3 linked regions of the Homo sapiens genome follow. The protein of the gene in region 2 purifies or fractionates together with the protein of the main gene of each other region. This does not show direct contact. Each region holds a gene or a part of one and is shown on either strand. Other genes may lie near its edges.

Evidence for each region.
Region 1: the proteins of SLC35E2B (region 2) and AASS purify together in Homo sapiens (affinity purification with mass spectrometry; one large-scale study listed by BioGRID and IntAct). This does not show direct contact.
Region 3: the proteins of SLC35E2B (region 2) and SLC12A6 purify together in Homo sapiens (affinity purification with mass spectrometry; one large-scale study listed by BioGRID and IntAct). This does not show direct contact.

The regions. Positions count from the first base shown.
Region 1 is NC_000007.14:122,141,398-122,145,707, reverse strand, and holds the start of AASS (alpha-aminoadipic semialdehyde synthase, mitochondrial), read left to right. Parts: upstream 1-1,458; 5' UTR 1,459-1,547; intron 1,548-4,310. UniProt on the Homo sapiens protein: Bifunctional enzyme that catalyzes the first two steps in lysine degradation.
Region 2 is NC_000001.11:1,689,883-1,694,264, reverse strand, and holds the start of SLC35E2B (solute carrier family 35 member E2B), read left to right. Parts: upstream 1-1,469; 5' UTR 1,470-1,816; intron 1,817-2,871; 5' UTR 2,872-3,289; intron 3,290-4,382. UniProt on the Homo sapiens protein: Putative transporter.
Region 3 is NC_000015.10:34,250,730-34,254,374, reverse strand, and holds part of SLC12A6 (solute carrier family 12 member 6), read left to right. Parts: coding exon 1-27; intron 28-1,990; coding exon 1,991-2,205; intron 2,206-3,317; coding exon 3,318-3,476; intron 3,477-3,645.

The sequences.
Region 1 (4,310 bases), on a different chromosome or scaffold from region 2:
TTTTAAGTCTGGATAGGTGGTGAGTAGGAAGGCAGTGATATTAGTAACAGAGCTGGTGAGCACAAAAGGGAAGGCTTTATTTTATTTTATTTTTTGAGACAGGGTCTTACTCTGTCACCCAGACTACAGTGCAGTGGCATGATCATGGCTCACTGCAGCCTCAACATCCTGCGGCTCAAGTGATCCTTCCACCTTAGCCTCCTAAGTAGTTGGGACCACAGGTATGTGCCACTACACCTGGCTTTTTAAAATTTTATTTATTTTTATTATTTTTATTTTTAGTAGACACAGGTCTTGCTACGTTGCCCAGGTTAGTCTTAAACTCCTGGGCTCAAGTGATTCTCCAGCCTCAGTCTCCCAAAGTGCTGAGATTACAGGTGTGAACCACTACACAGCCTTTGGAAGACTTTCCAAGAATGATAAGGGATCCGATTTTGGAAATGTGAAGCTGAAGATACAGAAGAAAATTCCAACTCTACTTACAGATAAAATTCTAATTTGGGGTTGGGCACAGTGGCTAACACCTGTAATCCCAGTGCTTTGGGAGGACGAGGTGGGAGGATAGCTTGAGGCTAGGAGTTCCAGACCAGTGTCCTGGTCAACACAGCGAGACCCCATGTCTACCACAAATAAATAAATAAATAATTTTCTCTGCAATTGGAGATATGAGTGGAGTCTCAAGAACGTTCTGGCTATAGATTGTTGACATAGGAGTTCAGTAGCTAAATACATCTATGGCAGGTATAAGAAGAGTAAGTGGTGGAGAAAGTTGTAAAAACAGGAGGGAAGATTAACTTCTGACCGTTGACGCCTTGGGGAATCACAGCTGGGCTTCAGACGATTCTTCAGTTCCTAGTGCTGGGGCTAGTGTCTATGAAATACGTTTTCCCCCTCCCTCCAGGCCTCCTAGGTAGTTAGGACTTTTCAATAACATTGGACATTGCCATATGCACATGAACACACTCAGTTTTAATTTCTCAGATTCTCCGCTTGCTGGCTTCTAAAACTGTTGTAAGAACTGTTATCTGGCTTCACAGGGTTGTGACAAGGCGGTGAAATGCTTTGAAAAGTGTCTATAGCTAAACAAACGTGAGGTACCGGCGCTCGCAACTTTTCCCCAGGAGATGTGCACCTCTATTTAGAGCGTAATGCCCAGACTATTTTCGTTGCTTTCCGTCCCCGCCCGCCTTCTGCCACGGACAGTTACAAACCTGGTCGATAATTATCCTGGGAGAACTCGACGTCCCAGCTAAGAACGCAGGTCAGAGATCAGAGATCAGAGACAGAAGGATCTTGGGGAGGAGCAGGGGCCGGGCATGACGTAGCAACTGGCAGCGCCGCCGATTGGCAGATGAGAAGGTTGTTCCCTCAGGGCGGCTGCTGATTGGCTACGGGAGGCAGAGGCGTGACGTCCTCAGAAGTTGAGCAAACACCTCCTACTTCCCGGCCTTCCATCCCAGTTTCTTCTAGGAATTCGGAGCCTCCCCTGCAGCGACTCGGAAGATTCGAGGCGGCGGGGGACAAGTCGGCGCCCCAGAGCGGACGAGGTGAGGAGAGGAGAGGTCCCCGCGGAGAGCTGAGCAGACGCGCGGGTGGGCTCAGCCTGTGAGATGCGGTGGAGATAGCGGGCCGGGCTCGGGCTGTCGCTGGGAGGGGCCCGCGAGCCTGGCCTTCGGGTCCCGGCGCCGCGAGGCGACCCCGGCCGGGCCGAGAGAGGGAGAAGGCGGCGAGCATTCGGGCCTCCCTGCGAGGAATGGAGGGAGAGCGGAAACGCAGAGAGTTTCACTGCGAGGAAGGGAGGGAGAGCGGTCAGCGCAGCTCCAGCATTTCTAAGTAGAAAGGCGAGGGATTGCAATTCGGATTTCTTTTCTTTCTTTTTTGGCGGACAGTGGTGGTGCTGTGGCTGGGGAATAAAGAACTGATGAAGCTGAGGAAACAACGGCTTGTTAATTTGTGGACGGCGTGCTTAGAGGGGACGGCTGGCTGAGGGGGCGGTGGATGGAGATTTCGGGGTGGTTCTTTCCCCCTTCCCTCCCCACGCCCAGCTTAGCCAAACTGATCACAAACTTCTCTCCTTGTCCATCTTGGGCTGCCCACTCTCCGAGACACAGACCCATTCTCCAGCAAGGATCGGAGATGGGTGGAAGTTGGGCGCCTTGCAAGTCTGGGTTTCCTGAACTCTTCAGCCCCTGCGGGACTATGCAGCCCATTGTGAGCGCTCGCGCGGGACGGGGCGCGGGGAGAAGCAGTTTACCCACCCTCCTCGGTTGAATGGGGCTGAATGTCTGTCTATCCTGACAGCTTCAGAAGAAGAAATGTGCTTTTCAGACATTGATTTCAGGGGAATGGGGGTGGGGGGAGCGGAAGAGAGAGAGAGAAAGAGCGCTCGAGCGCGAGAGAGAATGAATTAGTTCAGTAACTTGAACAAGGATTAACATTTTTTGATGTTGTGGGTTATCAGTGGGGAAGGTGCAGCTGTGAGATGTAGTTATACACAGGACGGAATGGTCCTTGACTGAAGCTGCGGCTTTCCAATACTGTATTAAAAAAAATCCCAAAACACTGATGGCACTTTGGTGTTTCTGGGTTTGTCTGTTTTGTCCCCTGCACTCCCCTCTTCTTTTTTTCCCATGAAGATGAGTGAATCTAGGGCTACATGACTTGACTGTGTAACCTGGTGGCCATTCTGCAAAATGAGTTAGGTGGACAAAAATTGAAGCCAATTTACCTGAATCATTTTCCCACTCTTCAGATAATCATATTTGTTATCAGTTTCACTTGTTATTGATGATGGCGTGATCAGAACTTTGGTTTATTTGTCATTGAATTTTTTTTCTCACTAGTCGTTTAACAGACCTTGGTTCGGAATTTTGGAAATGATCTTTGGTGTTTAAGAAGCCACCATTTAACAAAACATTTTCATTTTTTTCATATATTCTTTTATTAATTTTCTCATAGAAATAACATTACAAACAGTGGTAAGTTTTCTTGGGAAGGCTACAAAAGATTCTATGCAATTCATGAAATCATGGAAACAAACATTTGGAATGGAAAATAACCCCAAAACATTATTACCACATTCATCTGATCTAAGGTGTCATCTATTGTAAGATGCATCCCTATTTCACTGATGCTAAAATGTGTAAAAAAATTGTCTTAAATTTGATGAAATACAACATTAAAATGGTAATTTATTTATCTTGAACATGCATGCCTGAAGTTTGAAGTTGAAGAGAGGGCTTATTGGGCTCTAATTATTTTTTTTCCAAAATAATGTAAGGGTGGGGGATTAATATGGAGCCATCGTGAAGGTCTTACTACAGTGTGACAGAGGAAAGAAATGTGAGTCTACTGTTAGCGGCGTGGTTGTGCTCGCTTTTGAGGAGTAGGCAAGCCTGGAGGCTTTTTCTTTTCTTAAAATTTATTGTTTATGACACACAGCAATGCTCAGCACTTTATGCATATTAGCTCAATTAAACGTCTTAAGAGCCCTAAGAGGTAGAGGTTAATATGATTCTCATTTTGCGCATGATGCACAGACAGGTTAAGTTGCCAGCCAAGGTCACAGAGTAAGTTTGGCCGCTGAGGAACCCAGGAGAGAAACCAGTATTCCTTTGAGGTATCCATCTTCTGTTGCAAGCTCTTGGTTCCTGGTCCATGCTATTAATGCAGGTAGCTTAGGTGAATGTCCACTCTTTCTTGATTGTGTTTTTGGTATTTTGTTTCCCTGTTTGGTGTACTTTAGCTAGAAATTCATAAGTCAGAGTGCCTATTTATGTTCTACATTTCTAATGTTTTTGTAATTCTCAGTGTCCAGTTACTACTATGCTTAATAGAATCAGAATATCAGAGCCTGAAAGGGACTTTAGTATTATATTTTTGTCTGGGTAAGGAAACTGAAGTCAAGAGGAGGAACCCTACATCTAGTTATGTGTCCCAGCTCCCATGTCTAAGTTTTCCCACTATACTGTACTATATTTCACGACATTTGTTGATCTATGAGATCTTGGAAGAGAATCAAGTTTTTTTTTTTTTTTTTTTTTTTTTTTGCAGGGTTAGGGGGATGTGAGTCTCTTATTAATGTGTCTATTTTATCTGTTTGTTTGTTTGTTTGTTTTCTTGCTGCATAGGTCTTTATAATGTTTATTGAATTTGCTTTTTCATTTATTCATTCTTTCTTAAAACACTTGCTGTTTTCCCATGTGCCAGTCATTGGGAATACAGAGATGAGTAAAACACAACTCATACACATTTGCAGTTTAGCAAAGAGACAGACAAGTAAGCAGATAAGCATTTTGGACTAGACTCCG
Region 2 (4,382 bases):
CGGAGAGCAGCGGCGCTATCTCGCCTCACTGCAACCTTCAACTCCAAGGTTCAAGCGATTCTCCTGCCTCAACCTCCCGAGTAGCGGGGACCACAGGCACGCGCCACGAGACCCGGGTAATTTTTTTTTGTATTTTTAGTAGAGATGGGGGGGGGTTCACTATGTTGGCCAGGCTGGTCTCGAACTCCTGACCTCAGGCGATCCGCCCGCCTCAGCCTCTCAAAATGCTGGGATTACAGACGTGAGCCACCTCGCCCGGCCAAAAGTAATCTTTTCTTTTTTCTTTTGACAGGGAGTCTCGCTCTGTCGCCAGGCTGGAGTGCAGTGGCGCCATCTCGGCTCACTGCAACCTCCGCCTCCCGGGTTCAGGTGATCCTCCTTCCTCAGCCTCCGGAGTAGCTGGGATTACAGGCGCCCGCCACCACGCCCGGCCAATTTTTGTATTTTTAGTAGAGACGACGTTTTACCACGTTGGCCATACCAGGCTGGTCTCAAGCTCCTGACCTCGTGATGCGCCGGCCTCGGCCTCCCAAAGTGTTGAGATTACAGGCGTGAGCCACCGGGCCCGGCCCAAAAGTAATCTCTAAAGAGCCCTTTAGCCGTAACTTCATTCCTGAAAATTATTTGGGAAAGTAACGCTAGGAAAACGCTCGACGAAGCTCCGGAGCCGGGGGTCCTCGGGGCCGCAGGCGCGCCCGCGGGTGTCTGCTCCGGATGTCCCGCGGCAGCCCCGACGCCAGCCTGGATACGAAGGCCCCGCCCCGGAGCGCGCCACCAGCCAATCAGCGCCCTGAGGCGAGTCCTCACCCCGCGCGGCGGCCCCGCCCCCCGCAGCTCCGGGCCCAGCTGTCAGAGCAGCTTTCCCTCAGGCTGGGCGGAGCGTGGCCACTTCCGCCAGGAGGCGCCTTTGTGTCTTCTAAGTTAAGCCTATTCAGTGGATTTCTTATTCCTGGAACCCAAACCTGGGCAGTAAACCCTCCGGGGCTTAGAGGCCGCTGCCTCCACAGACTGGCCGATCCCGCCCTGAAGTGCCGCTGGTGGAACAGCCCGGGCGGAACCGCCCGGGCGGAACCAACGGGCTGCCGCGGGGGGTGGGGCCACGGTCCCCCCCCTTCTGCCTTCAGTGGAACGGCCCCGGCGGAACCAACGGGCCACGGGGATGCACTACGCGCACCGTCGTCCTCTCCCTCTGCCTGCAGTGGAACGGCCCGGGCGGAACCAACGTGCGGCCGCCCGGAGCACTCGGCGCGCCGTGTCCCTCCCCGTGTGGCTGCACTGCAACGGCCCGGGCTGGACCACCAGGCGGCAGCGGAGAGGCACTTAAAAGCCCCGTGTTACCCTAGACCTTAAAAAAAAAAAAAAAACTGCGTGTTTCCACCCCCGTCGGCCTGCAGTGGAAGGGCCCGAGCAGAACCAACGGGGGAGGGGACGCTGAGCGCGCCGTGTTTCTCCTCCCGTCTGCCTGGAGTAGAACGGCCCGGGCGGAACCAACGGGCAGCCGCGGGGGCGTTGTGGGCCGCGGCGCGTTTCCCCGGCTCCGTGGCTCTGGGGCACTGAGGAGCGGCGCCCGCGGGGCAGCGAGGAGCCCGATGCAGGGTTCTGCGCGTCATTTCCGGTCCCGCGGGCGCCCCGTGAAGCCCACCTGGATCCGCCAGCGCTGTGCCACTCCCCAGTGCCGAGCTCCGAGCTGTCTCCGCGGCCTCGCGCCCGGCCCCTCCACCGCGCGCCTCTCAGGCCCCGCCCGCCAGCGTCCCTTTGTTGTGAAGGCGCCGGGGCCTAGCGCTATGCCTGCGGCGGAGACTGCATCAGGCTCTCGGTGGGTTCTGCGTGCGGGGTGCTCTGCTCGGTGATCGGTGCTGGGTGCTGCGTGCTCGGTGCTCGGTGCTGGGTGCTGGGTGCCGGTACTGATGCTGAGTGTGCGGGCGTCCGGGGTTTCCCTGCCCGGATTCGCTCCTGGGGGTCCTTTCCTATGGCTGGCGCTGTGCGCGGAAAACGCTGGTGGGGTTTTCCCAGCTGGCTTTAAGCGTTTTCACGTCCGGGAGTCCACGGCGACCCCCACGCCCTGAAGCCTGGGAACGCGGTGTGCGTGGCCGCAAAAAGAACAACAACAACAAAAAAACACAAAACAAAACACGCAAAAAACTAAAGCAAAACTCCCGACAGCCGAGCCCCGTTCGGTGCCTTTTCTTTTTTTTTTTCTTTAATGGAGTGAAATCTACTTTGCTCAGGAAGCCTGCAAATCACATTTTCAGGCCAAACGAGGCAGTATTTTAGAAGGGGTCGCTGAGGCAGGAGTAGGAAGGCTTTCCACTCCACTCACGCATTTTCAGTGTAGGCGAATCGTAAAACGGAGGGCAGAACGAAAATGAGCGGATCTGGGAGTGCAGGCTGCGCTTCGTCCACATCGATAACAGATGTTTCCTGGTGAAGATGTGTAGGGCGCAGCGGGTCACCTGGTCGGGGGAGGGCACAGGGCGTCCCTCCACGGGGTGCCTTTGGCGTTGGGCACTTGTGTGGTCTCCAGCTTCCGGGTTTTGGAAGCGGAGTGTCCCCTGCAGCCTGAGCCTCTTGCAGGTGGTTTCCTTGGGACGAACTCCCAGGGGGAGGTCTGAGTTCTGGGGCATGGTTTGAAGATTTGGGACACATTTTGCCTGAAATTCCCTGCTGGCCGTTTGAACCCACCTGGACTTCCTGACCAGGGGCACGGATTCTTAACCTCTGGTGCAGGGGCCTGGCTAGGAGAGGTCTGCACAGTTGGACGAGGTGCAAAGTGACGCTTTGTCAGTAACCCGGCGTTGAGATTCCTGTGGTGGGACGAGCAGCTCCTATGGCTTTATCCCATTTTAAATCCAAGTTTTCTTTTCCTTCTAGTCCTCGGGCTCCACCCGGGGAGCTGTGCCCAGACAGCAGAAGGGAAGGATGTCACTTCTGAGATGAGGTTCAGAAAGGTCTGGGCTCCTGTCCTGGCTGCTCTCTCCCACTCCCTGATGAGCTTGCTGGATGAAAGCTCCTGTCAGGCTGTGGGGCGTCCTGTGGAGAAGCTGGCAAGAAACTGGTGGGGGCCCTTTCCACCTATAGCCAGCAAGGAACTGAACCCAGCCAGCGTCCACCTGAGTGAGCTCAGAGGTGGGCCTCAGCCCCAGTTGAGCCTTCGGATGAGGTCACAGCCCTGGTCCATGGTGTGACTGCAGCTTCAGGAGGGACCTTAAGCCAGAGGTGCCTGGCTAAGCTTCCCGCAGATTGCTGCCCCACAGGAGCCAACATCAAAAGCATTTGTTGTTTTGAGGTGGTAAGTGTGGAATGACTGTTACAGGGCAGTAGAGAAGGAGCATGCACCCTTCCTGCTTCTTATTTGCCTTTTAGAAATTGTCCTCTGTGAATCGCTTGAACCTGGGAGGTTGAGGTTGCAGTGAGCTGATATCTCACCACTGCACTCCAGCCTGGGCGACAGGAGCGAAACTCCTTCTCCAAAAACATAAATTCTTCTCTGTGAAATATGTTGTTTTGTTTTTTTTTTTTCTTTACTTTTTGAGACGGAGTCTTGCTGTGTCACCCAGGCTGGAGCAGGCGCAGTCTCAGCTCACTGCAACCTCCGCCTCCCAGGTTCAAGTGATTCTGCTGCCTCAGCCTCCTGCGTGGCTGGGATTACAGGCGCCTGCCACCACGCCTGGCTAATTTTTGTATTTTTGGTAGAGACGGAGTTTCATCATGTTGGCCAGGCTGGTCTCGAACTCCTGACCTCAGGTGATCTGCCCGCCTTGGCCTCCCAAAGTGCTGGGATTACAAGCATGAGCCACCATGCCCCGCCAACATTTTTTTTTTTTTGCCTGTTTTTCTACTTGGTTTGTAGGAATTCTTTATACTTTCTGGATATTAATCCTTTGCCATGTTGCAAGTATTTTTTCCCAGGTTGTGGCTGTTGATTTCACTTTATGGTATGTATATATATATATATATTTTTTTTTGTTTCTTTTTTTTTTTTTTGAGACAGAGTTTTGTTCTTATTGCCCAGGCTGTTGTGCAATGGCGCGATCTTGGCTCATCACAACCTCTGCCTCCCGTGTTCAAGTGATTCTCCTGCCTCAGCCTCCTGAGCAGCTGGGGTTAAAGGCATGTGCCACCATGCCGGCCAACTTTGTATTTTTAGTAGAGATGGGGTTTCTCCATGTTGGTCAGACTGATCTGGAACTCCCAACCTCAGGTGATCCACCCACCTCAGCCTCCCAAAGTGCTGGGATTACAGGCGTGAGCCAAGTCTGGCCTTTTTTTTTTTTTTTTGAGACAGGGTCTCACCCTGTTGCCCAGGCTGGAGTGCAGCGGCGCAGTCTGGGCTCACTGCAACCTCCCCGTCCTGGGTTCAAGCAATTCTCCTGCCTCACCCT
Region 3 (3,645 bases), on a different chromosome or scaffold from region 2:
GTCTTCTTTTGCTCCTCCACACTTCCCGTACGTGTCTGTCTCTCTGCCTAGCCATCCTTATTGGGTAGTAATTGAAAATATCTGGTGGTGTGATAATTTTAAGTCAGAATTTCATAGAGTCTCTCTGAGATTTTCCCTCTCAGATAAGCCCAGTTAGACTTCCTTCCTCATCTAGGCAGGAAGCCTACCAGCAAACTATGTCCCGTTCATCCTCTTTCTTATGTCCTAAGCATAGAACTAGTAGCTGTAACCATCATTTAGGTTCAGATATTAGATTTTTTTCTCCCTGATAATTGTACATAATCTTTTTTTATTATACACATTTTGAACTATTCATAAAGGGCTTTGCAGACAGTGTAGTTATTGCCAGCAACCTTTATAAGGCCCACCTTGGCCTCCCGACGTGCTGGGATTACAGGCGTGAGCCACTGCGCCCAGCCTAGGTCAGGGCTTTTATCCATTACCCAAATAATGTACTTTGTACCCATTAAGTACTCTCTCATCATTCACCACCTCCTTCAACTCCCTAGTGCGAATACTTTAAAGTATGTTTTTTGAAGTAGTAATGGATTTGTGCACATCTGTGACTCACAGGCTCACTTTTCCCTTTGACTAGTGGCATAGGGACTAGCTGGCACTCAGTGTTATTTGTAGTCTTGTTACAGAATTATCTTGAAGAGTCATCTGGATTATCTGAGGATCAAACTCATCGGTTCTATGTTGATTTAACCAGATTACAGAAAAAAAGATTTTTCAAGACAAAAAGACAGTTCCAGTAGGTTTAATGACTTACCTCAAAGTTAATTAATGGCAGAGCAAGAAGATGAACTGTGATTTCCTGACTCCCCATTCAGTATTTCTTCTATGCTATGCTGCATGATGGCAGAAGTAGATTCCATCTTAAACTTTTAATCTGCTTATCTAGGGACTGTAATACAGCTGAAGGTCCTTTTTAGGGGCATAAAATTTCTAAAGGTGACATTCTGGTTATATCTCAATTTGGGAAATTCCATTTTGTCTCAGGTTCACCTTTGGGGCTTCTCCTCTTTTTTGATTAGTACACGGTCATAATGCATGGTATTTTCTTTGAGATATTCCAGCAAAACAAGACAAAAAATCTAGAATAATACATGAAACAAGACTGGGAAATGTTGAGAGTTGTTGAAGCTGAGTAATAGGTACATGGTTCATAATAATGTATTCAATCATTTTGCAAATTTTAGAAGTCCCTTTGTTGGACCTGAGAGGTATTTTAACTATGGATGTATTATTCCTTTGTTTATATTTGTGTCTCTGGGTTAAAGAAAAAAGTAAAACCAGCAGGTTAATATTTATGTTATCCTTACCGTCACTCCCACTGAGTCTAGGCTTAAATTCAAAAACAGTTTTCTCTTAGGCCATAGAGGGATCTGCCTTTTAATTCTGACCAAGCTGTTTTCCTTGCAACAGTAGCCAGAAGATTCAACCTTTAGCATAACATTTTCAAGGTGTTTGTTATGAATGTTAGGCTTTTCTAGGCCAAAAAAAGAGGAGTGCTTTTTACTTTATAAGAACAACAAAAGGACTTCAGTATTCTTTTAGACCTAACAATTTTAGCCAAAAATTTTGGAAGATGAGTCAGCATAATGTCTTCAGACAGTTCTTCAATTTGACTTCCTTCACTGCCACCACCTATGACCTTGGACAGATAACTGTATTTCCCTAACCTTCAATTAACTCCCTGTCTTCCTAAACTTCAGTGCCTCCATCCACAACATAGAAATTCTAATACATTGTGAGGTTGCTGTAAGTATTAAATTGGCAGAAAATGTAAGTCACCATTCACAGTGTTAAAATAAATTATAAATAAATAAACATTAGTTCCTTTCCCACCCATAACAGTAGAAGCTCTTAAAGATGGGGTTCTTGTTTCCTTTACTAACCTGTTTCCTTTTTTTTTAATGTACTTTTTTTCCTTACTTGATCTTTCTCCCTATTTCTTTTCACTTAGGGTCTGCATGCTGGGTAACCGCACCCTTTCATCAAGACACATTGACGTTTGCTCTAAGACCAAGGAAATTAACAACATGACAGTCCCATCAAAGTTATGGGGATTCTTCTGTAACTCGAGTCAATTTTTCAATGCCACCTGTGATGAATACTTTGTTCACAATAACGTCACTTCAATCCAGGGCATTCCTGGATTGGCTAGTGGTATAATTACAGGTAAGTTAGGGAGTTATTGGACAAGTTTTTTCCTATTTTCTGGGGAAAATAGGCCTTGTCATCTTAGATTCCTCTACTGTCCATAAAGATTCACTGCCATGGTGCTAATTCCCTTCTTAAGCACACCACACAGCTCTTAATTCACCATATTTCTGCTTTTCCATTAGTAAAGCTGTCCTTATTCAGTACTCCTTTACAGAGTGATGTCTGCTAAAATTCACCTCCATTTCAGAGCAGAGTTGAGCAAATCACTTTCTAACCTTACGGTAAAATATTCCGTGTATTCTTGTAAAATTGCCAATGTTCTTCCTGCACTGACAGAATAGACCTGTTTTAATGTCCACATCCACATGTATCTTCCTAACTTAGCTAAATTCCTGAAACATTCCTTAAGTGTCTTCTATTATAAATGTTTGGTCTATAAATTTCTTTGCACATAAGTAAGTTTACATTAAGGTGTTAGAAACAGCACTGATGACAAATAATAATGGGATTTGTGGGGCATTTAGTTTTAGTCTGTTTAACTTTTACTAATTTGCATTAGTAAAGTTAAACTATATTTGCATGTACCAAATCATTTTGTCAAATTATATTTAAATTAGATAAGAAAGAACATTATGTTTAGCTGGGCGCCGTGGGTTATGCCTGTAATCCTAGCACTTTGGGAGGCCTAGGTGGGAGGATCATGAGGTCAGGAGATCGAGACCATCCTGGCTAACATGGTGAAACCTCGTCTCTACTAAAAATATAAAAAATTAGCTGGGCGTGGTGGCAGGCGCCTGTAGTCCCAGCTACTCAGGATGCTGAGGCAGGAGAATGGCGTGAACCTGGGAGGCAGAGCTTGCAGTGAGCCAAGATTGTGCCACTGCACTCCAGCCTGGTGACAGAGTAAAACTCTGTCTCAAAAAACAAACAAACAAAAAAAAAACTATGTTTTTATTTATGTGTGTTTTATTGTGCAATGTGTGTGTATACATGTGCTCATGTAGAAGCAAACACACCTTTAGAAACTGTATAAATGAGGAGCCTGATTTTGAATGTTTGGGTAGAAAATTAATTATCTTTTTTTTTTCATACTGCTGCTGCTTAAATTCCCATTTTTCCCACTGCAGAGAATCTTTGGAGTAATTACCTACCCAAGGGAGAGATCATCGAAAAGCCTTCAGCCAAATCTTCTGATGTCTTAGGCAGCTTAAACCATGAATATGTTCTTGTTGACATCACCACCTCCTTCACGCTTCTGGTGGGAATCTTCTTTCCCTCTGTTACAGGTAAACACATAGGCTGTTGTATATTTTAGAAGCTGTCAGACCCACGGAGTGATTTTTCTCAGGAGGCAGAATTCTCAGGGTTCCTAGATTTGCTTCTACTCTTTGCTATCAGTATCAATATCAAAGTGTCCAAGAAGTTAACTTGGTTTTTTCCCCCTTATCTCTAAAG